Linked DNA regions of Homo sapiens. The protein of the gene in region 4 purifies or fractionates together with the protein of the main gene of each other region. This does not show direct contact. Each region holds a gene or a part of one and is shown on either strand. Other genes may lie near its edges.

Region 1 (7,042 bases), on a different chromosome or scaffold from region 4:
CATGCTGTACCTTTGCAGCTATTGTCCTCTGTGAGCTCATAGCCAGTCCCGCAGCTGCTGTCCCGCTGGCAGCGGAAAGAGCCCACTGTGTTGATGCAGGATTCTCCAAGCCGGCAGCTGTGGCTGCCCGTGATGCATTCATTGACATCTAGGAGAGACCGAGGCAGTGCGGGGGTGACCAGCAAGAACGACCCATCCTAATACATCCTAGAAAGGAATGTGCCAAAGCCACGGTGGAAGTGCTTCCCTGCACCCTCGCAAACTGAGCTCAGGTCCACCATGTGCACATCCGGGCTGTGGACTGCACGGAGTCGAAAGCAGTGATTTCTCTCCCCTGCTAACGTTCATATCTACTGCTTTTTCTGAGACTGTAGTTATGTGGTCCTCAAGAACCCCACGGAGGGGCAGCATCTTCTCCATCTCCCCCATCTCACAGACGCGGGGGCCAGGAGAGGCTGAAGGATGTGCCCAAGGCCACTCAGCAGATCCTGGATCCGGAACCTGGTTAGACCCCAACTCCATCCTCTTTCCCAACCCCAGTGCTTATATTGTCTTGGAGGGAAGTCTCGGCAGGGGCCTCTGCGCTGCAAACTCCAGCGAACACGAGAAAGCGCGTCCTGGGCTGCTCTCCACCCCTGAATGGGGTCTGGGTTGTAGAAGGCAGGCCCTGGTCAGTCCTCCAGCACAGAGCTCCCAAGCACAGTGACCGGCCAGTCCTGCTGGCACCTGGGATAGGGACATTACCTTCACAGGAGACACCATCAGACAGCAGCTGGTAGCCCACGAAGCAGGAGCAGACCACCTCGTCACCCGTGTCTCGGCACTGCTGCTTGCAGGGCCCGCCTCCTGGAAGCACAGCGTGCATGAGCCAGGGATGGACGCACCCAGGCACCGCCTGGTTTCTAGCTCCGTTCAGGCTGGGTCATAGAAAACGCCCTCTGGGCAGACGAACCCAGGAAGGCAGGCTGACCTGGCTGGAGCCCACCTGCTGCCCTACTGGGAGACCCCCAGGCTCTGGCTCTGGACACCCCCCAGGGGCTGCTGCTTCAGGTCCCAACCTCCCCGTCTGGAAAATCAGGTGGTGTGCAGGGTGCCCTTTGTAGGCTGGGGTGGACCTGGAAGGGGCGAAGCAGAGAAGAGCTCACTGCCGGTCACAGACATGGGGGTGTGGGCTCCACGTGGAAGGCCAGGCCCCAACTAGGCCTCATGTACCTGCTCCTCACTGAACTCTCGAGCTGTCCCACTGCTCCAAGCCCACTACCATGGCCTCAGTTCCTGCAGCTGCCCACCTGGCTGTGGCCACAGCCTCCTACCTGGTCTTTCTGCATAGCCCAGAAGCACCCCACAACCTGTTCTTCCTACAGGGTGGCCAGAGTGATGCTCAGAGTGCAAATCTCATCAGGATAAGCCTCAACCAGGGAAAGATTCTACGAGATACACTTCTAACTGCTGCCAGCCTGCCTGCTTCTAGGGCCCCTCTCTCTGGCCCTGTAACCCCACCTCCTTCCCCAGCCCACTGCCTCCCAGTACCCTGCTACAGTGGGTCCGTGCCCTTTACAAGGCTTCAGGTCTCCCTGAGGACCGTTTCAGGGTTATTTTCCCAGCTAATCCCACCTCCTCCTTGCAGACCAGCTCTCCCCTCCCCAGAAAGCTCCTCCCATAGCCCTGAGGCTTGCTGGGGCTCTAGGTCACTCCCTTCCTCCCTCCACCAGGCCCCTGGACAGCGCCCCTGGACCAACTGTCACTGTACACTGACTGCATCATTTAAGAATTAAACTGGCCCCTAATTAACACCCTAACCACAGGGGGAACCACTGAAAGAGCTTGTGAGGCAGATCTGCAGGTCTAGACATGCCAGAATGTTCCATGAAAGAAAAGCAGTTTTATCATATGAAAAACAAACCTGCGAGGCCCTTAGTTAAATGTGCAGACATCTCCCTGTGAGGCAAATGAATATCACCAATGGTGACAGAACCGTGGCTGGGGCTCCAGGGGCACAAAGGCAGGGAACGCTGAGCCCCCTCCTCTCCCCTGAGAGCCTGAGGGAGGCCTCTGTCACCTTCACAAGGCCTGGGGGCTCGGTAACGTGCAGGCTTTCCACACCAGCTCTGGCCCTGGGCCTGGGCCACCCTCCCCAGCAGGGCCTCACCAGGGCCCCTCCTTGGTAAGCCCACCCTTCCCCTCCCCAGCCAGCCCTAGATCTGGAAGGGGAAAGGGAAGGAGGAGCTGGGAGTCCACGACTCCTCAGGGTGGAAGTGGCTCATGGCTGGCTCCCAGCCAAAGGGTACTTTGCAGGGTAAACCAAAGCAAAACCTGGATTCCAACTTCCAGTGAGATCAGCACCGAGATTCCTTGGTTTTGCTTTTTGTTTGTTTGTTTTTTTGTTTTTGAGACGGGGTCCAGCTCTGTTGCCCAGGCTAGAGTGCAAAGGTGCAGTCATAGCTCACTGCAGCCACAACCTCCTGGGCTCAAGGAATCCTCCTGCCTTGGCTTCCCAAAGTACTAGGATTACAGGCCTGAGCCACCTTGCTGGCCCCTTGGGGTTTGTTTAAATACCAACTGATGGGAGACGCCCGAGTCTCACCTCGGCAGCGGTCATTCAGATATGGGTCCTCTTGTTCCTCCTCAACCTCAATGATCTTATCTAAGGGGGAAAAAGACCAAGTCAGACATTTATCCAAACACCCATCTTATCTTAAAAGAAACTCCCAACATTCTCTCTTCTTGTCACTATCAGGCAGTAATGCCCATTTGAACATCTTATATAAACAGCTAAGTATTAACTTTATCCTCTTTAAGCTAGAATTACACTTGAAAATGTATAATTGATATCTGATCAATTATAGGCCAGGCGTGGTGGCGGGCACCTGTAATCCCAGCACTTTGGGAGGCCGAGGCAGGCGGATCACCTGAGGTCAGGAGTTCAAGACCATCCTGGCCAACACGGTGAAATGCTGTCTCTACTAAAAATACAAAAATTAGCCAGGTGTAGCGGCATGCACCTGTAATCTCAGGTACTCAGGAAGTTGAGGCAGGATAATCGCTTGAACTCAGGAGTCGGAGGTTGCAGTGAGTCAAGATCACACCATTGCACTCCAGCCTGGGCAACAAGAGCGAGACTCCGTTTCAAAAAAAAAAGATCAGTTATAACAGAAAGACCACAGACACAAAGGCCTGTAATCATTGACTTCATGCTGGGTGATATTCCCATAGTCCAAATTACTTGACCATCTCAGCAAATGCAGTCACAGCCTTGCTAACAACCAACACACGCCCTCCAAGTCTAAAGCAATGCACGCAGTAAAAACTTGAGTCTCCTGATTGATTCTATCAAATGCTATTATGTGTTTGAAAAGGGTTATTCTCCATTTCTGTACTTATTTGTCGCAGGCCAGCACTGGTCTGGGGACCTTCTGCATGGCCCCCAGGAAACATACAGTGGGTCCATGGCACTGGTAGCAGTGGGAGGAAGGTGCGGCTGTGAAGACAGGAAGCCCTCCCAGAGGAGGGAGCATGCGAGGATAGTCTGGGGCAAGGACTGAAGCAGATAAAAGACGGAGAGATAAAACATCTAACATCTGGAGCTGCAGAAAAGCCCAGAGACTGCTCACGCTGCAGACATAAATCAGTGAAAATCCACCCCCGAGATGCAGGAGAAATCCTCCACCAGCAGGAATGGTTTGGGTTTGTTTAAAGTGAAAATGTCGTCTCTGATTTCAAAAGCCAAGGAATGAGGCAGAATGCGGCCCCAATCCCTCTTGATGACTGTAACATCTGAAATCATCTCAGTGGCATCCATGGGGCCCTGGACTTGAAAAACTAAGAACAATAAGTGAAAGATGAGTCCCGGGTGACCCGGGTCCTCTGTGACCAGGGGCCCTACAGCCTGGACTTGAAAACCTAAGAACAAGAAGTGAAAGGTTCCGTGTCACCCAGGACCCTACAGCCATTACCTTGACTTAGAGACTACAGGTCTGAGGGTTCTTCCCTTTCGCCCCTTCCGGCACCTCCCCACCTCTTTATTTATTTTATTATTTTTTTTGAGACTGAGTCTCGTTCTGTCACCCAGGCTGGAATGCAATGGCGCCATCTCGGCTCACTGCAACCTCCGCCTCCCAGGTTCAAGCGATTCTCCCTGCCTCAGCCTCCCAAGTAGCTGGGATTACAGGCGCCCGCCACCACGCCCAGCTAATTTTTGTATTTTTAGTAGAGACAGGGTTTCCCCATGTTGGCCAGGCTAGTCTCGAACTCCTGACCTCAGGTGATCCGCCTGCCTCGGCCTCCCAAAGTGCTGGGATTACAGGCGTGAGCCACCGTGCCCAGCTCACACCTCTTTTATTTTTTAAGAGAGTGGGGGCAAAGCTCAGAGAGAGGAGGGAACAGGCCGAAAACTACACAGCAAGCTTGGCCCAGGCGGAGTCCTGCCTTCTTCCAGGTTAATTCTGTTACAGCACAAGAAACCGTGGCCTAAGTGTAAGAGGCTACTGGACAGCCACAAAGTCTCCTGAACCCTGTAACTGAACCACACAGAAATGCAGGGCGAGGACACAGAACGGGGGGGCACACAGCTGAGAGCGCTCTTGAAGCTGCTCTTGGGGTCACATGCCCCTTTGCTGAGTAAGTGTCTATGATTTGACAGAGCATAGCCAGCTATTAGCCAGCGATGGCCCCCAGCTGCTCGCCCATACATCGTCAGCTCCAGATGGAGAGGGCACTGGCCAGGAGGTGGAAGGCCAGGCTCTCCCTCCTCCACGTGTCGGCTGTGCGATCTTCAGCATCAGACCCTCACCCAAGAAGTGGGAGCAAGGCCAGCCACCCATGCTGCCCCGGGCAGCTGAAGGGACAAGGGCAGATGGTGAGGGCAGACATTTATGGGGCCAGGTGCTCTACCCAACCCTTGACACCCAATCTCGCACTCCATCCTCCCAGCACCTGATGAAGTAGGACTGCAACTATCCCCACTTCCCAGATGAGGGGACCAAGGTACACATTAGGACCCGGATGGGAGCACAGATTTGTCCGATCCCAGACTCCAAGCACTCAGCGTCACTCCAGGACAGCGGCTTTCAGATAAGGTCACAAACATGAATGGCTCCGACAACCGGAGTTAGTCCGTGCTGAGTTAAGGCAATGGTGACACGGATGCACGTGTTACCTGTAATGGTTCATCGTAAGTGTCAATTGGGCTGGGGTATGGTACTCAAATATTTAGTCAAACACTAGCCTGGATGTTGCTGTGAAGCTATATTTTAGAGATTAATATTGGCCAGGCACGATGGCTCACACCTGTAATCCTAGCACTTTGGGAAGCTGAGGCAGGTGGATTACCTGAGGTCAGGAGTTCCAGATCAGCCTGGCCAACATGGTGAAACCCCATCCCTACTAAAAATACAAAAATTAGCCAGGTGTGGTAGTGTACACCTGTAATCCCAGCTACTCGGGAGGCTGAGGCACAAGAATCACTTGAACCCGGGAGGCGGAGGTTGCCGTGAGCCAAGATCACACCACTGCACTGCACTCCAGCCTGGGTGACAGAGAGAGATTCTGTCTCAAAAAAAAAAAGAGATTAACATGTAAGTCTGTTGATGCTGAGAAAAGCAGATCATCTTCATACCATGGGTGGGCCTCACTCAATCAGCAGAAGGCCTTCAGAGAAAAAAGACTGGCCTCCCCGGGAAAGGCGGCGTTCTGCCAGCACACTGCCTTTGAACTCCAGCTGCAATGCCCCTCCTTCCCTGGGGCTCCAGCCTGAAGGCCTGCCCTGCAGATTTTGGACTTGCCAGCCCCACGATCACATGAGCCAAGTCCTTAAAATCTCTCTCTCTCCACTCTCGCTCTATATACACATCCCGGAGAACCTTAATACACTGCTCATTAGGGAAGGAAGGGGGAAAGTTACCCGTTTCTTGGAGGCCCCCGACATCCAAATCTCCGGTCTCCTGGCTCTTGACACAGCATGCCTGGAAGACCTGTCCACACTGGTAGCCAACCATGAGGCTGTACTCGCAGCTCTGGCCCTGGGCCTGGGCCGCCCTCCCCAGCAGACAGCAATGGCAGCACCTCTGCAAACACAGGTGGAGATCCCAGATGGAGGAGCGGGCAGACAGCCCAGCGGGGTCCACGAGAGGCCTCAGGGGAGGCCTCTCTGAGCCCCCTGTCCACACAACCTGTAGAGTGATGACTCAAGTCTGGCTTAGATACCACTTCTAAATGTCAGCAACAAATAGCAAAGCAAGGCCATCCCCCTACTCCAAATCATCTAGGTCCCAGTTTTGAAAGGAAGCTTAAAGGGCCTGGCATCCACCTCCCCTCCCCACCCCAACATGCAATTGCACCCCTCAACATCCCTGCCCCGCCCAGAGACCACCCGGCTCTGCTCGCACACATCCAGGAAGAGGGAGCTTCTTATAGCACCATGCACCAGCTCCAAAGTTCTGTTCCTTTTGCATGGTCTGAGATTTCTCTACCATGCCCGGAAAAATGACACACATGCATGCTGCCTCTCCGTTTTTGAGTTAGAGGGGTTCTGGCAGCAGGAATTGCACCGTGCATTTGAAAGCACAGGAACTTCAAGACGAGTCATCAAGCAAGGTCAAAGGACAGGGTGGCTGTCTGCCACCTGGGCCCAGGTCCCAATAGTTACTTCCAAGTCCCTGTGGCCTCACACCTGAGTCCCAGAAGCAACATTTGCCCTGACACACGAAAAGCCCTGCTTCAGTCTTTATTAAGTGGTTATCCTAAGAGGAGCACAGAACTTTCTAAACAGTCCCCAGCAGGAGCCAGGAGGTGTAGCTTTGCCTCAGTTATGTGGCACTGATGGGTCTTCCAGGCTGCTTATTCTACGCCCTCCGCTGCCAGAAAGTGTAGGGAGCATCAGTCACCTCATCCATCTTTTGGGGTGTGAGTAATCCTTCCTGGAAACACAAGTCGCTCATCTGCCAGAGAGATCTGTTCCCACTCCTGCTAGAATGTTCTGTGCTTTTTCCACACCTCTCAAGTCTGGGGACATGGGCACAGCTGTGTGCCGGACCGACGGCATCTG
Region 2 (5,286 bases), on a different chromosome or scaffold from region 4:
AATCTCATCCACTTCTCTCCATCCTCACAGCCATCGCCCGTTTGCCCACCTGGTTTCACTAGACTGGACTCTACCCTCAAATCTCACCATCCTCCACCCTATTCTCCCATTCCCCCTGTCAGACACTTCCTCACGTTGCATAAAAGGTTAGTTATCATAAATGATTCACTACAATCTGTTCCCAAGCTTTACCCTCCAGCACTGCTAAGACACTTCATTTTGGCATGCACCATTTTGTAAGATACTCAAAATCCTTTTCGGGACAATAAAATATACATACCCTTGATACCTGAAGTGTGTTTCTGAGGCCCTGAAGCGTTTGCATTACTGTATTAAAAACTCACAGTTGCAGTCAGGCCCGGTGGCTCATGCCTGTAACTCCAGCACTTTGGGAGGCCAAGCCAGGCAGATCACTGGAGATCAGGAGTTCGAGACCAGCTTGGCCAAGATAGTGAAACCTGATGTCTGCTAAAAATACAAAAAATTAGCCCGGTGCGGTGGTGGGTTCCTGTAATTCCAGCTACTCAGGAGGCTGAGGCAGGAGAATCGCTTGAACCCAGGAGGCAGAGGTTGCAGTGAGCTGAGATCATGCCACTGAACTCTAGCCTGGGTGACAGAGCAAGACTCCATCTTAAAAAAAAAAAAAAACCAGCCAGGTGTGGTGGCTTATGCCTGTAATCGTAGCACTTTGGGAGGCCGAGGCAGGCTGATCACCTGAGGTCGGGAGTTCAAGACCAGCCTGACCAACATGGAGAAACTCTGTTTCTACTAAAATTACAAAATTAGCTGGGTGTGGTGGTACATGCCTGTAATCCCAACTACTCAGGAGGCTGAGGCAGGAGAATCGCTTAAACCCGGGAATCGGAGGTTGCGGTGAGCCAAGATCATGCCATTTGGGCGGCAAGAGCGAAACTCCATCTCAAAAAAAAAAAAAAAAAATCCACAACTGGCTGGGCACGGTGGCTCATGCCTGTAATTCTTGTTTCGGAGGATGCCTGTTTGGGAGGATCGCTTGGGCCCACAAGTTTGAGACCAGCCTGGGCAACATAGTGAGACCCCGCCTTTACAAAAAATTTAAAAATTAGCCAGGTACAGTGGCATGCACCTGTGGTCCCAGCTATTGAGGACACTGAAGTGGGAGGGTCACCTGAGCCCAGGAGGTTGAGGCTGCAGTGAGCCATGATTGTACCACTACACTCCAGCTTGGGTGACAGTGAGACCCTGTGTCAAAAAAAAAAAAAAATCCAAAATCTCACCCAGACCAATACTGTATCAGAATTATCATTTTAACAATATCTCCAGATGATTTATATGCACATTAAAGTTTGAGAAGCTGGCCAGGTGTGGTGGCTCACACCAGCACTTTGGGAGGCCGAGGCAGATAGGTTACTTGAGCTCAGGAATTCGAGACCAGCCTGGGCAACATGGTGAAACCTTGTCTCTATAAAAAATCCAAAAATTAGCCCGGTGTGGTGGTGGGCACCTGTGGTCCCAGCTACTCAGGAGGCTGAGGTGGGAGGATGGCCTGAACCCAGGAGGCAGAGTTTGCATTGAGCTGAGATTACACCACTGCATTCCAGCCTAGGCAGCAGAGCAAAACCCTATCTCAGAAAATAAATAGTTTGAGAAGCAATCTTTTTTTAAATGAGTGAAGAAATCAGACCTAAGGAGAAATCTGATGAAGCCAGAGCTGAGTTAATATTGATAAATGGATGCAGTCAGGTGGTCTATACTTAATTTTTGGTGAGGGGAAGGGACAGTGGAGGCAGTATTGATTTTGAGGAAGCCAAACAGGACAGCCTGATGAATTCAAGATTTCCAGCATATATACATCTTCACCAATCCCACCACCTTGCTCCAGCCTGTCATATCACTGTGTCTACATAAAAAAAAAAAACAAAAAAAAAACTCCAAGGCCAAACTCTCTGACCTTTCTTTCCTTCTAAAGACCAAGCCCTCCTCACTAGCCCCCTGCCCCTCCTTAGTTAACTGGCAAAGAGATCAAAGGGCAGGCCTTCTGACTGGTGATGCCTCAGCTGTAGCCCCCAAACTTGACTCATCCTTTTATTAGTCCAGGTACCACTTCTTCAGAAAGATGACCAGCCCTCACTGACCTTCCCCTTCCTGCTGTGCTCCAGGCCATCAAGGCATGTGTCACCCAGGCTGGAGTGCAGTGGTGCAATCTCCGCTCACTGCAACCTCCGCCTCCTGGGTTCAACCTATCCTTCCACCTCAGCTTCCCGAGTAGCTGGGTCTACAGGCGCATGCTGCCGCACCCGGCTAATTTTTGTATTTTTAGTAGAGTCTAGGTTTCACCATGTTGCCCAGGCTGGTCTCAGACTCCTGGGCTCAAGCTATCCACCCGCCTTAGCCTCCCAAAGTGCTGGGATTACAGGCCGTGAGCCACCGCACCCGGCCTTGTACTGTTACTGTTTATGGGAGGCAGTACACAGCTGGGCTTAAGGGCACAGTCCTGGAATCAGATGCAGTCAGATTTGAATCCCAGCTTCCCTTCCTGCAAGATGTGTGACTTTGGCTAATCATAGTGCTTTACTATCCAAAAGTTGGCAAGGAATGGGTGAACTAATACAGGATAAAAACGCTTGCCCTACTTCACCTGCCCCCAGCTCCCGGCTATAAACAGTAAATAGCTGAGCTGCTGCAGCACTCAGGCAGGTTGGCCAGCGCTGGGCCAGCAGGAACTGGAAGCTGGTGTGGGGCCTGGGACTTTGGACGCATTTCCAGCTTTCTCTGAACCGGGCTGGCTTCCTAGCAGATAGGGCGGGACCGTCGGGTTGAGTGACGGCCGGTGGCCCGCCCTGGGCGTGACGTTGTTCTAGTGTTGTTGCCAGCAGCTGCACGTGGTCGGCTGAGTCCGCCTCAGACTCAGAGCTGCGCTCCTCGACCTCAACGCCAGGCGGTTACTTTGCTGCTCCTCCCGCTCGCTATGTCAACGTCCACTAGCTGCCCGATTCCCGGGGGCCGGGACCAGCTGCCCGACTGCTACAGCACCACGCCGGGGGGCACGCTATACGCCACTACCCCCGGAGGTCAGCGGGCCGGGCAGGGGTCCGCAGGCTGCGGACATATTAGCGCGTGCGTGTTGTTGCGGGGCGGGGGTAGGGGAGGGACAGACCTAAGACTTGTCCGCAGGCCCCTCTACAGGTTGTAGCTTTGGGGGAGAATGTTTGGAGCGGAAGCTCAGTTCCCAAAAACTTCTAAGTGATGCAACAAGGCCATGAGCCTAGCTTCCGGGTGTTTGGGCTGTAATCCTTCACTGTGGCCTGGGTTCTTGGAGCCTTACACACGCTCCTTACCCCTCGCGACTTTGCTTCCTAGGAATAGGGGCCAGGGCCCCCTACTGAGCGTGACCTCAGCCGGAAGCACCGGGTCTTGAGAAGTGGAGTAGTTAGAACAGTTGGGGCAGTTGCTCCGTTTTTGTGCTGCTGGCTGGCGTCTGTTTGGTTGGGCGAGCAGCCTGGGATCACGAGCTGCTGGGCTCCCGACCCAGGGATTCCTGCCACGCGGAAGCGGAGGGGAGGAACAGGGCAGGACCCTTTGAGGACATTATGCGGGCCAAGTTCCTCTGAGCTAGTGTGAACCTTATAGGACCTGGGAGGGGTCAGGATTAGAACAGTACGTTTCTCCTCCCTGCAGGAGATAGCCCAGGTAACAGCACTGGGTGGAACCCTTCACAACTGCTATTTCACTTCTTGAACCACCTGAGGCTGTTAGTCTAGGTCTCACCTTCACTGGTGAGACCAAAGCAGAGGTTTCAGAGTGGTAGAGGAGCAGCATGAAGTACCTGAACTCAAAGTTTGGTGTTCCTCTTAGAGCCAAGATCTGAAGCTCTCCCAAACATAAAGCCCCTGCCTATACCAGCTGGGATGCCCCCCTTGCTTTATACCCACATCTTGGTTAGGTCTGGAAGATTTTAAGCACTATGAAGGCTTGTCTGCTGAGAACCTAGCTGGGCTTCAGAGCCGATGTCCTTTGATACACAGGGAAATTTGACACCACCCTCACCTCCAGGCCCCAAAAGGCCTGAGTCTGGGACCCCAGTCACCTCGGTACCCAAGCTCCTGACTCTTACCTCAGTCCCAACCCCTTGACAGGCACCAGGATCATCTACGACCGAAAGTTCCTGCTGGAGTGCAAGAACTCACCCATTGCCCGGACACCCCCCTGCTGCCTCCCTCAGATTCCCGGGGTCACAACTCCTCCAACAGCCCCTCTCTCCAAGCTGGAGGAGCTGAAGGAGCAGGAGACAGAGGAAGAGATACCCGGTAAGGAAAGCAGGAATTAAGAATTGTCCCAGCCTTTGAGTTCAAATGCCACTGTGACACAGTGCGGGGGTTCAGTTCCAAGAGGGGTTTCTGCACTGATGCTGAGCCTGCAGATCCTCAGACCAGCAACCTGTCTTCCTGCCTTTTCTCTCTCCAGATGACGCACAATTTGAAATGGACATCTAATCCAGTGCAGATGACCTGGCATGTGGAGTTACAGAGGGATCCCTCATGCCACTGCTGCCACCACCTCTTCCTGGGGCATCCAAAGGCCAGCTGGCCTCATCTAATCTGGAAGGGAGTGACTTGTTAGTTCCAGGCCTCCTTTAGTTCTGAGGCAGCTAGACCAGGGATAGGAGTGGGCAACTTGCCAAGCCCTTAACTCTACTTCCTCTTCAGTCTGTGGTACTCCTCCTAACCCTAAACCCTCTATGCTCAGGGGCTGGAACTGGGGAATGGAGTAAGTCACCTTCTGACTGCTTAGTAAACATTCAAAGAAATGCCTTGGCTCCAGTGTTCTCCTCAATGCTGATTTTCTCATCTCAGCCACACAGCTGAAGGCCCTGGCAGGCCTGGTTAAGCTCAGAGGCCTCAGATCATTCCCAGCTCCCACCAGGCCCACTTCCAGCAGCAATTAGAACCTGAGGCACGCTACAGTGGCAGGTTACATGAGCCTCCAAACCATAAACAGCAATAGCTTGGCCACTGCCAAGGGCTGTTCCTGTCTTCCCAGGAAGCAGCCTTCCTGGAACCAGGGCCCCCCAGCAGCCCCTCCCCTATCCATTCCAAAGCAGGACTCTTGGAAAAGAGGTGCTGTCCCAGCCTATAGCCATCCTGTCTCTCCCTGTGCCTTTTCTGCTTCCCACCTCTAAGCACCAGTTCCTCTATTCCAACACCAAAAACCTTGTACCCTTCTCACAGCATGATAGTCCACCAAGTACCTCTCTCAAAGGGTTACAAGAGACCTTAGAGTTCACACTGAAACCCAAAATGAGGCAGC
Region 3 (7,042 bases), on a different chromosome or scaffold from region 4:
AAGTTCTACATATAATAGAAAAGTACTCACCTATGAATCAGGAGTTCACAAAATTTGTAGTGACCTTTGTCTGCTGCTATTGTTAAAGCAGTATCTCTTGAGGAAGGCACAGGGGGAGCATTAACATCTGCTCCTTTATCAAGAAGAACTCTTCCAACCTCTGCATACCCTCCAGAAGCTGCTTCCATCAAGGGGGTAAGACCCGTCTGTTTAAACCAATAAATTATGCAACTAAGTTACATTTCTTTTTTTAACTATTCCGTAGACCAAAACTAAGCTACATAATTTCTTTAAAAACCTGAGGCAATTAACTTTTAAGACAATTCTAGTTCTGATTAGCTCTCATAAAAGAGCTAAGCAATATTTTGCCTTGAATTTTACTAAACAGCAGTAGAAATTGTTAGATTCAGACGTGCTAGAATGAACTTAAAACATGTTATCTCATGCTAAAAACAATTCTGTAACTTCTATACTTTTGTGAATTTACTCAGATAATTTCTTTGCATAATGAATAGAGATATTAAAAATAAGTAGATTAAAATCACTTTATAAATTTTTTGCATATGTGCCTTTGGTACGTTAGTCTCCAACATTTTTTCAAAGGACATTTCCTACTGGTACTATCCAAAATAACACAGATTTCTCTAGGACCTTTAATGGATGAGTGGCACACAATGAATACTTGTAATAGAAAAAGACAAATTGAATGACAGGAAAGACTCATTTCTCTTTGTGTGGTAAAAAGCCAAGGAAAAACTACACTTCCTCATTACTTAGATTAAAAGAATGTAAATGTTGCACTAAACTTTAAGAAGTAAAAGGAATTTCAGGGAAGAAGTACGAGATTTCCAGTCAAATCTTTCCAATTTCAAATGAGCACTAGATTCTCTGTTGACTAATTATTAAAAATTCTACCCAACCTACGTCTTTCCAGAGTTCTAAGAACCTTGCAGTTCTAAGCAAAGAAATTCAAGCCAATGACATACTAACTCCTATTTTCTTTCCTCTGTGTGTGTTTCCTGCATCTATGGAGATTATCTTATGACTTTTCTCCTTTATTCTTTCTTTTTTGTGGGGGCGGGGGGTGGGATGGAGTTTCTCTCTTGTTGCACGGGCTGGAGTGCAATGGCGTGATCTCTGCTCAGTGCAACCTCCACCTCCCAAGTTCCGGTGATTCTTCTGCCTCAGCCTCCTGAGTAGCTGGGATTAAAGGCGCCTGCCACCACGTCCAGCTAATTTTTTGTACTTTTAGTAGAGACGGGGGTTTCACCATATTGGTCAGGCTGGTCTCAAACTCCTGACCTCATGTGATTCACCTGCCTAGGCTTCCCAAAGTCCTGGGATTACAGGAGTGAGCCACCGCGCCCAGCCTCCACTAACTCCTATTTTCTTAATACCAAATAGTCATGAAACTGTCAAAATCTGCCATGGTCAAATTAGATGTTAGCTGCCCTAATTTTATAACTTGTGAATTAAATTTTTGCTTGGGATTTTTACAATGATAAGCACATACCTCATTAAAGGTGTTCTTTAAAAGTCTACAGTGTAAGAGTTAATACAAAATAATCTTACTACATTCAAAAGTTGTAAGCTGCAGTATTAATAGAAAGCTACTCAAGGCTGAGGTTGGGAAAAGTACTAATTCTGTTTTCTTCATTGTCCTTAATAAAAGTCATGATGGTGACAGTATGTCACTCACTATTATACAGCATAATCCCTCAACTCTGCATTGGTATCAGTTTTAATTTATGATAATTTAAAATATTATATTCAATTTGCGTTAAAATGCCATGTTCTTTCTACAGAAATGTATCTGAAATAGTTGACAAGTAAAAAATGCTTACCTTTGCCCTATGTTCAACATTGGCTTTTCGGTCCAGAAGCAAACTCACTACTTCTGCTCGGCCCTGGAAACAGGCCAGGGTGAGAGCCGTGTTCCGATTGGTCTCTATTTGGGCATTAATGTCTGAACCCATATCGAGCAGCAATTTTACTGCAGGAACATGTCCATTCATTGCAGCCAACATCAGGGGAGAAATACCTAGTTTACTCCCAGTCCTAAAGGGGGAAATGTGCTTAGAAAATTAAAATAATATGTTGCCTATTATTTTAGAAAAGCATTAAAGATGAAAAGGTTTCACTAAAAAGAGAGGTTTCTAACATCAATGAATAGATTTTACTTGTTTCGACCAATAATAAAGAATAAGAAAATGTCACAATTTAAAACATAATTTCCGGCCAGACATGGTGGCTCATGCCTGTAATCCCAGCACTTTGGGAGGCCAAGGAGGGCAGATCACCTGAGGTCGGGAGTTTGAGACCAGCCTGACCAACATGGAGAAACCCCATCTCTACTACAAATACAAAATTAGCTGGGTGTGGTGGCGCATGCCTGTAATCCCAGCTACCTGGGAGGCTGAGGCATAAGAATCGCTTGAACCCCGGAGGCAGAGTTCGCGGTAAGCCAAGATCGCGCCATTGCATTCCAGCCTGGGCAACAAGAGCGAAACTCCATCTCAAAAAATAAATAACTTAAAAAATAAAATGTAATTCCTATTTAGGGATTATAAATTTCCAACTATATAAAATAAAATACCGTTTCTGAGATCAGATGAGATTGGGCACGTTTAGGGTGGTAGGCCATAGAACAAAACACTTTTTGAAATGAGACCTCTTTATAAGCAGCCACATTACTGAAATAAGCTGAGATTACTTATAAACAAACACATTATAGGTATAATCGTTGGCTTTGCAACTTTAGTACTATCTTAATTTAAAATGTATCTGTCTAAACGTTAAGAGGTAGACATTTAAGTCCAAAGTAGTAACTTACTAAACATGAACAATAAAATGAACAGGCAATACCTTGAATTAATTTCTGCCCCAGCATTAAGCAGAATCTTAATGATATTAACATATCCTCCAGACGCAGCTAGACTCAGTGGTGTATAATCAGATACGTTCCTATGTTCTTTATTTGCACCTCGAGCCAGCAGCAAGTCTACCACCTACAAAGTAAAATATGGATAGAGAAGAGAGTTTACACCAAGGGCTCAACTTATAATGAAGGAAACACAAAGAAACAGGACTTATAACTTCCTTATCTAAATATCTGATATTTTAATTACATTTCATTAGACCCTAAATATTGAAATATCAACACTAGAGAAATGGATTCAATTTCAGGAATTCAGAGTTTTGAAATCCCAATTATACTGCAATAACAAGATGTTACCCTTTCTATTTGCCATTTATTGGGCAATAAATTTGCACTTCATATGTGTTAGAATTGTGATTCATTCAATCCGAATAAATGTAAGGATTAAGATAATTTTTATTTGGCTTTAAGGGCAAGAAACAGATTTTTTAAAAGGGGATTTATGGCCAGGCATGGTGGCTCATGCCTATAATCCCAGCACTTTGGGAGGCCAAGGCAGGAGGATCCCTTGAGGCCAGGAGTTCAAGGCCAGCTTGGGCAACATAATGAGACCTCATCTCCACCCTCCTGTTCCCTCCACAAACCCCCGCCAAAAAAAAAGGGCATTTACATTCCCATAAAAGTTAACAGAAGTACCCATTCCTCAGAAAGTATATGGAACATGTTAAAATACGTGCAGGGCCAGGCATGCTGGCCCATAACTATAATCCCTGTACTTTGGGAGGCCGAGGAGAGAGGATTGCTTGAGGCCAGGAGTTTGAAATCGGCCAGGGCAACATTACATGACCCCATCTCTACAAAACAGCCCTAGCTACTTGGGAGGCTGAGGATTGCTTGAGCCCCAGAGTTCAAGGTTATAGCGAGCTGTAATTGCACCACTGTACTCTAGCCTGGGAGACAGAGCAAGACCCTGCCTCAGAAAAACAAACACACAAAATACATGCAAATTTTATTCATGTAGCTAAAATACGAATCATATGCATATTTTAAAATACAAGCAAAATATTTACAAAATGAAAATTAACATTAACACACCTCCTGACGTCCACCAGAACATGCCAATGAAAGCGGAGTATCCTTAGTTCGTTCAGACTGTGCTTCTATATCTCCACCTTTATCCAAAAGGATTTCAACAACTCCAACATGCCCTGCTGTTGCTGCCAGGATTAGTGGTGTGAAACCTAAATCAGAAAATGAAAATCTTAAACAAATTTATGTTTTTTATTTTATTTTAAAGCCACTGTTTACAATTCTCTAGTATTTTAGCAAAATAAATCCTTCAGGGCAGACACTGATAATGAGTTAACATAAAACTGCTCTAAACCCTAATTTGTTAGTGACAAAAAACCCATAAACACCTAATTAAAAAACTAAGTCGGTAAAAATTATTAAAGTTTATACTCATAATGAACTTTGATGCCTCTGTATGAACTACCTTTGGATTAACAAAGGCAACCACAACTTGCTCTATTTCACTAATGATCTACGTCTAATTTTTGAATGTTTTGAGAATTATTTGGCTCCGCAGAATAATGAATCCAGATATTCCTAACTGAAATATACTTATCCATCTTATCACTGAGATAGTCTAGGAACTATTTATCAATAATAAAAAAGTTAATTATTTTCTGATGTAACTACACTTGGATTTTATTTCTGACTGATATTTACCTTTTTTGTCTCTGTGTTCAATTTTGGCATCCCGTGCAATGAGCACAGATACAAGTTCTTCATGACCACCTGCACAAGCTAGTGTTAATGCTGTGTCATGATTGCTCTCAGTCTAGGAGAAGAAAAAAATAAGTTAAAATTTTTTTTAACAGAAGTTATCAATTTAAGAGCAAATAATATTTCTTTTCACAATAAATGCAGAATAATTTTCCTTTCCAAAGAAGATCAGAATGTGCAAAATAAGTTTAAATAAAGCAATCTACTCACATGTGCATCAATGTCAACTGAAGGATACACAGGAGGCATCGATTGGGAAGCCACATTGCTTGTAGTCTGCGAACAGGATTCAGGTGTAAGACACTCTGTGGTCTGAGAAGAACTGTTGGAACCAGTGGGCACTCTGGTACTCACAGCTGAAAAACAATATTCATATTGCTAAATTCCACTTAAAAGAGTAAGGTTATTTGTACATAGAAAAACACAAAAACAGAAATTTCCATAGCAGTAATATGTAGTAATAGTAAAATCACAAGCTTTGGAATCAGACAGACCTACATTTAAATATTAGTTCCAACACTGACTTTCTGATCTTGGGCAAGTAATTTAACTTCTCTGAGCTTCAATTTTCCCTATATGTAGAATGGCGAAAATAATGGTACCTGCCTTGGAAGGTTATTGGAAAGACCACTGAGGCAATGCAGATAAAATACTTAACACAGCACCTGATATTTAGTGCACATACATTAAATAGTAGCTTTTTGCATTGCCAACAGGGAGGAAAAAAAATTTCCAAAAATAAAAGTAAATAAAAGGAATTCTAGATTTTAGTTTGTAAAAAAGTCAATTAGATAAAAATATCCTGTGTACAATTCAAAAAAAGGGGGCTGGGCGCAGTGGCCCACGCCTGTAATCCCAGCACTTTGGGAGGCCGAGGCGGGTGAATCACCTGAGGTCAGGAGTTTGAGACCAGCCTGGCCAACATGGTGAAACCCCATCTCTACTAAAAAAAACAGAAAGTTAGCCAGGTGTGGTGGTACATGCCTGTAATCCCAGCTACTTGGGAGGCTGAGGCAGAAGAATTGCTTGAACCCAGGTGGAGGCTGCAGTGAGCTGAGATCACGCCACTGCCCTCCAGCCTGGGTGACAGAGCTAGACTACATCTAAAAAAAAGGGTGGGGGAGGGGAGGGAGACAAGTTCAAGTATTTCTCACATAAATAGCAGGGAGTATGTGTTTCCTAAATTCAATATTTATTTTGAAACTTTGTTAAAAAATCAGTATCTGAAAGTCCAACTATTTTTAAAATGAACATTGAAGTTCTATTTGAGATCTCAAAATGTGGTTTGAAAACTGAGTTAAGTCCAGGAGCGATGGCTCACGCCTATAATCCTGGCACTTTGGGAGGCTGAGGTGGGCAGATCACCTCAGGTCAGGAGGGTTGGGAGTTCAGGACCAGCCTGGCTACCATGGCAAAACCCCGTCTCTACTAAAAACACAAAGTTAGCTGGGAGTGGTGGAACGCGCCTGTAAGCCCAGCTACTCGGGAGGCTGAGCCAGGAGAATCGCTTTAACCTGGGAGGCGGAGGTTGCAGTGAGCTAGGATCGCACCACTGCACTCCAGCATGGGCAACAGAGTGAGACTCCATCTCAAAAAAAAAAAAAAAAAAAAAAAAAAAAAAAAGAAAGAAAACTGAGTTAAAAGAAATTATGTATTTTATATCTCTGAAAATTTCTTATGTTTCTTAAGAGATGGAGTTTGACCACGGGGGGAAACAGGACCTATCTCAGGGATGTTGTGAGTAGTCTAAGAGATACTGTATATAAAGCATTTAACACAGTGTTTTTAGCAAATGGTGGGTGCTCAATAGATGTAACTATCAGATATTTTATAGGATTGTCAATACTATTATTCATTGTATTGAAAAATAAAAACATTATTCACTCAAGAAAGGAAAAACTCAGAAAAAAACATATAATCAGTAATAATATACAAAAAAATCAACAAAGCATCAGTGATGGCAATAACCTTACATTTGCACCCAGATTAAAAGTCAGTCAAAAACACGTAGGACTTAAAGAAAAATGTAAGCATTTTAAGTGTTGGAAAATATTTTCTCTCTAGAATTTTTGATATGACTAGATCCCATTCAAAGATACTATTCGTAAGTGTGAATGACTCAGTTTAGTAGATTACTAGTTTAAATAAGTGAGCAAAGTTTAAGATGCCCAGATATATTTCTACATGAGCTACCCAGCTCATCCCCACCAACATATATAACCATCTTGGCAATACAAATTTCTCCAGCTTCTGTCATCACATAAATAACATAATTTAACTATTTAGTTACAAATAGGAATAATTATTACATATGTTTGTTTCACCTATAAGAATATGCAAAATGGAAACAAAGCCTTAAAATTTTTTGTCATTTTT
Region 4 (2,843 bases):
CCACATTACCATAGCCCTAGGCAGTGGTTTCTAGGTGGCGAGAATTCCATATGCCTGGCCAGACTCCAAAAAGCTTGCTTCCCAAAAATACCACCCTATACACTCTCCTGGAAATCTACATTGAGACATTGATTTCATTGGGCCAAACAGAGGCCCAATCTCAAGGGACCTTCTAGTAAACTACAAGCCCCTGGGCATTGAGCCCTGAGGCCTCATGGTGAATCACATACTAGCTACTTGCCTCAGTGATAGGAAAACCTGAGAGGAAGCCCCCTGGCTGGTGTGGGGAGGGGAGGTGGAGTTGTTCCCCTGGGGAGGGGCTGCTGCCAGCCTGCATGCTCCTCCAGCACCAGGTAGGGCTGTTCTATCCCCAGACTACTCACTGCTGCTCACCTTCATCTACAACGGGCGCGTGGTGGGCGAGGCCCAGGTGCAAAGCCTGGATTGCCGCCTTGTGGCTGAGCCCTCAGGCTCTGAGAGCAGCATGGAGCAGGTGCTGTTCCCCAAGCCTGGCCCACTGGAGCCCACGCAGCGCCTGCTGAGCCAGCTTGAGAGGGGCATCCTAGTGGCCAGCAACCCCCGAGGCCTCTTCGTGCAGCGCCTTTGCCCCATCCCCATCTCCTGGAATGCACCCCAGGCTCCACCTGGGCCAGGCCCGCATCTGCTGCCCAGCAACGAGTGCGTGGAGCTCTTCAGAACCGCCTACTTCTGCAGAGGTGAGGCTGTTCTCTCTGGGCACATGAGCTTCCACCCCCTACCTCTTAGTACCCCCTGGGCCCAACTTGTTGGGTCCTGCTACCTCCCTATCTGCCAGCAGATCCTCCATGTAGCCTATGCATGGCACTCCTGCGCTTGTGTGTTGCATATCCTGTGTGGCCATATGCCCAGCCTGGCAGCTACCTGGCAGCTCTCCTCCAGCCAAGACAATGGAAGAGGTGGTTCAGGTAGAGCCCAGCACAAGAGTGTCATATCTTGGAGAACACCATCACACTGAAGCATGCAGTCACTATGTGAAGGTGCACAGAAGAATTGGCACAGAGATTTTGAGCCTCATGGCCTTCTCCTACGTACACACATTTGGGAGAGCTGGCACACATCACACACACTGGCCCTGGCTGCACCGTCTTTACCACACTCCAGGCATGCCTTAGGGTTGCGCTTCTCTCCCATCCAATTCCAGCTCCTACTCAATTCTAAACCTGACCTTAAGAGTGGGACCAGGTGTACAGGGGGTGCAGAGTGTGGGTGTTCCCAGGGCCATGGGTGCCCTAGCACTGGGAGGATGTGAGCAAGTAGCAAAGGTCTGGGCACATCTGAGTTAGCAGCCAGGGCTGCTACCTGGGAGGACTCTAAACTCTCCCAGCAGAGAGCTTGTCGGGCTGTGCTGTGATCTGCTACTTCTAAGCACTTATATGAGGCAGGGGCACCCTTTCCTATTTGCACATGGGTGAGTAGCACTTAGTTCCAAGTACTTCTGACCTTGCAGCTCCTGCTCTGGCAAGACCCCCTCCTACCTCTCTCCATCATGGGTTCCTCACTATTGCCTCCCTGCCTGTGGCCCTCTCTCTTCTTTTTGTTCTTCGAACCCTTGACCCTTTCTCTTTCAGACTTGGTCAGGTACTTTCAGGGCCTGGGCCCCCCACCGAAGTTCCAGGTAACACTGAATTTCTGGGAAGAGAGCCATGGCTCCAGCCATACTCCACAGAATCTTATCACAGTGAAGGTGAGCTCGGAGCAGGGGTAGAGTACCCATCTAATGAGAGCAGAGACAGTGGTGCTCCAGGAGGCAAAGGGGGTCTCCCAGTGGGGAAGGAGCTCCTGGGGGTGGTGTCTGTCCCTGATGCACGCACTGAGATGCTCTTCTCCATCTCTTCCAATACAGATGGAGCAGGCCTTTGCCCGATACTTGCTGGAGCAGACTCCAGAGCAGCAGGCAGCCATTCTGTCCCTGGTGTAGAGCCTGGGGGACCCATCTTCCACCTCACCTCTTTGTTCTTCCTGTCTCCTTTGAAGTAGACTCATTCTTCACACGATTGACCTGTCCTCTTTGTGATAATTCTCAGTAGTTGTCCGTGATAATCGTGTCCTGAAAATCCTCGCACACACTGGCTGGTGGAGAACTCAAGGCTAATTTTTTATCCTTTTTTTTTTTTAATTTTGAGATATACGCCCTCTTTCATCTGTAAGGGACTAGGAAATTCCAAATGGTGTGAACCCAGGGGGCCTTTCCCTCTTCCCTGACCTCCCAACTCTAAAGCCAAGCACTTTATATTTTCCTCTTAGATATTCACTAAGGACTTAAAATAAAATTTTATTGAAAGAGGAATCAGTATCTGATTTTCTGGGAGAAGAAGGTAGCAGTGGTCACAGATAGAGATGTAAACTTAAGAGTGGGGCACTGGGGTTCTCTTCCTGCTGACATCTCCAGCCTCTTTCCTCTCCTCTGCCCACAGGTTCTGGCTAAGATGCTGCCTGGGCCCTGTGGGTCCTGGGCCTGGCACTCTACAGAGGTACCCTCTGGGCAGATAAGATTAGGGTGTGGGTTGGGCACCAAGCCTTCAGCCAGGCACTATAGCCACCAACTTCACATGGTAAAGTCTGGGCTCCACAGTTCTTGCTAGAAGGCCCCAACATCGGGCCTGAGGTTAGTTAGATTGGAGGTCTAAATGAAGAGGAGACACTTGAGGGTGACCTGAAACTATGGTCTAGAGGCCCTGGGACCTGAGAACAGAGGAGTCAGAGAGAAGAGTTGCTGAAACTGTACCTGCTGTTACTGGCACCTCTTCCTCCAGCACAATTTCACTGTCACCCCAGCAGGGTACTCCCAAACTGGATTCCTTGCT

Evidence for each region.
Region 1: the proteins of IRF9 (region 4) and FBLN1 purify together in Homo sapiens (affinity purification with mass spectrometry; 2 studies listed by BioGRID and IntAct, with this or other methods). This does not show direct contact.
Region 2: the proteins of IRF9 (region 4) and ANKHD1-EIF4EBP3 purify together in Homo sapiens (affinity purification with mass spectrometry, with the first as the bait; 2 studies listed by BioGRID). This does not show direct contact.
Region 3: the proteins of IRF9 (region 4) and ANKHD1 purify together in Homo sapiens (affinity purification with mass spectrometry, with the first as the bait; 2 studies listed by BioGRID). This does not show direct contact.

The regions. Positions count from the first base shown.
Region 1 is NC_000022.11:45,526,867-45,533,908, reverse strand, and holds part of FBLN1 (fibulin-1 isoform D precursor), read right to left. Parts: intron 6,063-7,042; coding exon 5,900-6,062; intron 2,645-5,899; coding exon 2,585-2,644; intron 847-2,584; coding exon 745-846; intron 149-744; coding exon 11-148; intron 1-10. UniProt on the Homo sapiens protein: Incorporated into fibronectin-containing matrix fibers. May play a role in cell adhesion and migration along protein fibers within the extracellular matrix (ECM).
Region 2 is NC_000005.10:140,544,791-140,550,076, forward strand, and holds the end of ANKHD1-EIF4EBP3 (ANKHD1-EIF4EBP3 protein), read left to right. Parts: intron 1-2,871; exon of another isoform or gene 2,872-2,947; coding exon of another isoform or gene 2,948-3,050; intron 3,051-4,115; coding exon 4,116-4,286; intron 4,287-4,443; coding exon 4,444-4,447; coding exon of another isoform or gene 4,448-4,472; 3' UTR 4,473-4,786; downstream 4,787-5,286. Other genes in the region: EIF4EBP3 (eukaryotic translation initiation factor 4E-binding protein 3), read left to right, coding at 2,948-3,050, 4,116-4,286, 4,444-4,472. UniProt on the Homo sapiens protein: May play a role as a scaffolding protein that may be associated with the abnormal phenotype of leukemia cells. Isoform 2 may possess an antiapoptotic effect and protect cells during normal cell survival through its regulation of caspases.
Region 3 is NC_000005.10:140,502,801-140,509,842, reverse strand, and holds part of ANKHD1 (ankyrin repeat and KH domain-containing protein 1), read right to left. Parts: intron 5,023-7,042; coding exon 4,877-5,022; intron 4,722-4,876; coding exon 4,610-4,721; intron 4,120-4,609; coding exon 3,974-4,119; intron 3,009-3,973; coding exon 2,866-3,008; intron 2,059-2,865; coding exon 1,845-2,058; intron 207-1,844; coding exon 31-206; intron 1-30. Other genes in the region: ANKHD1-EIF4EBP3 protein, read right to left, coding at 31-206, 1,845-2,058, 2,866-3,008, 3,974-4,119, 4,610-4,721, 4,877-5,022. UniProt on the Homo sapiens protein: May play a role as a scaffolding protein that may be associated with the abnormal phenotype of leukemia cells. Isoform 2 may possess an antiapoptotic effect and protect cells during normal cell survival through its regulation of caspases.
Region 4 is NC_000014.9:24,164,240-24,167,082, forward strand, and holds the end of IRF9 (interferon regulatory factor 9), read left to right. Parts: intron 1-347; coding exon of another isoform or gene 348-374; coding exon 375-716; intron 717-817; coding exon of another isoform or gene 818-944; intron 945-1,607; coding exon 1,608-1,723; intron 1,724-1,882; coding exon 1,883-1,957; coding exon of another isoform or gene 1,958-2,016; 3' UTR 2,017-2,326; downstream 2,327-2,843.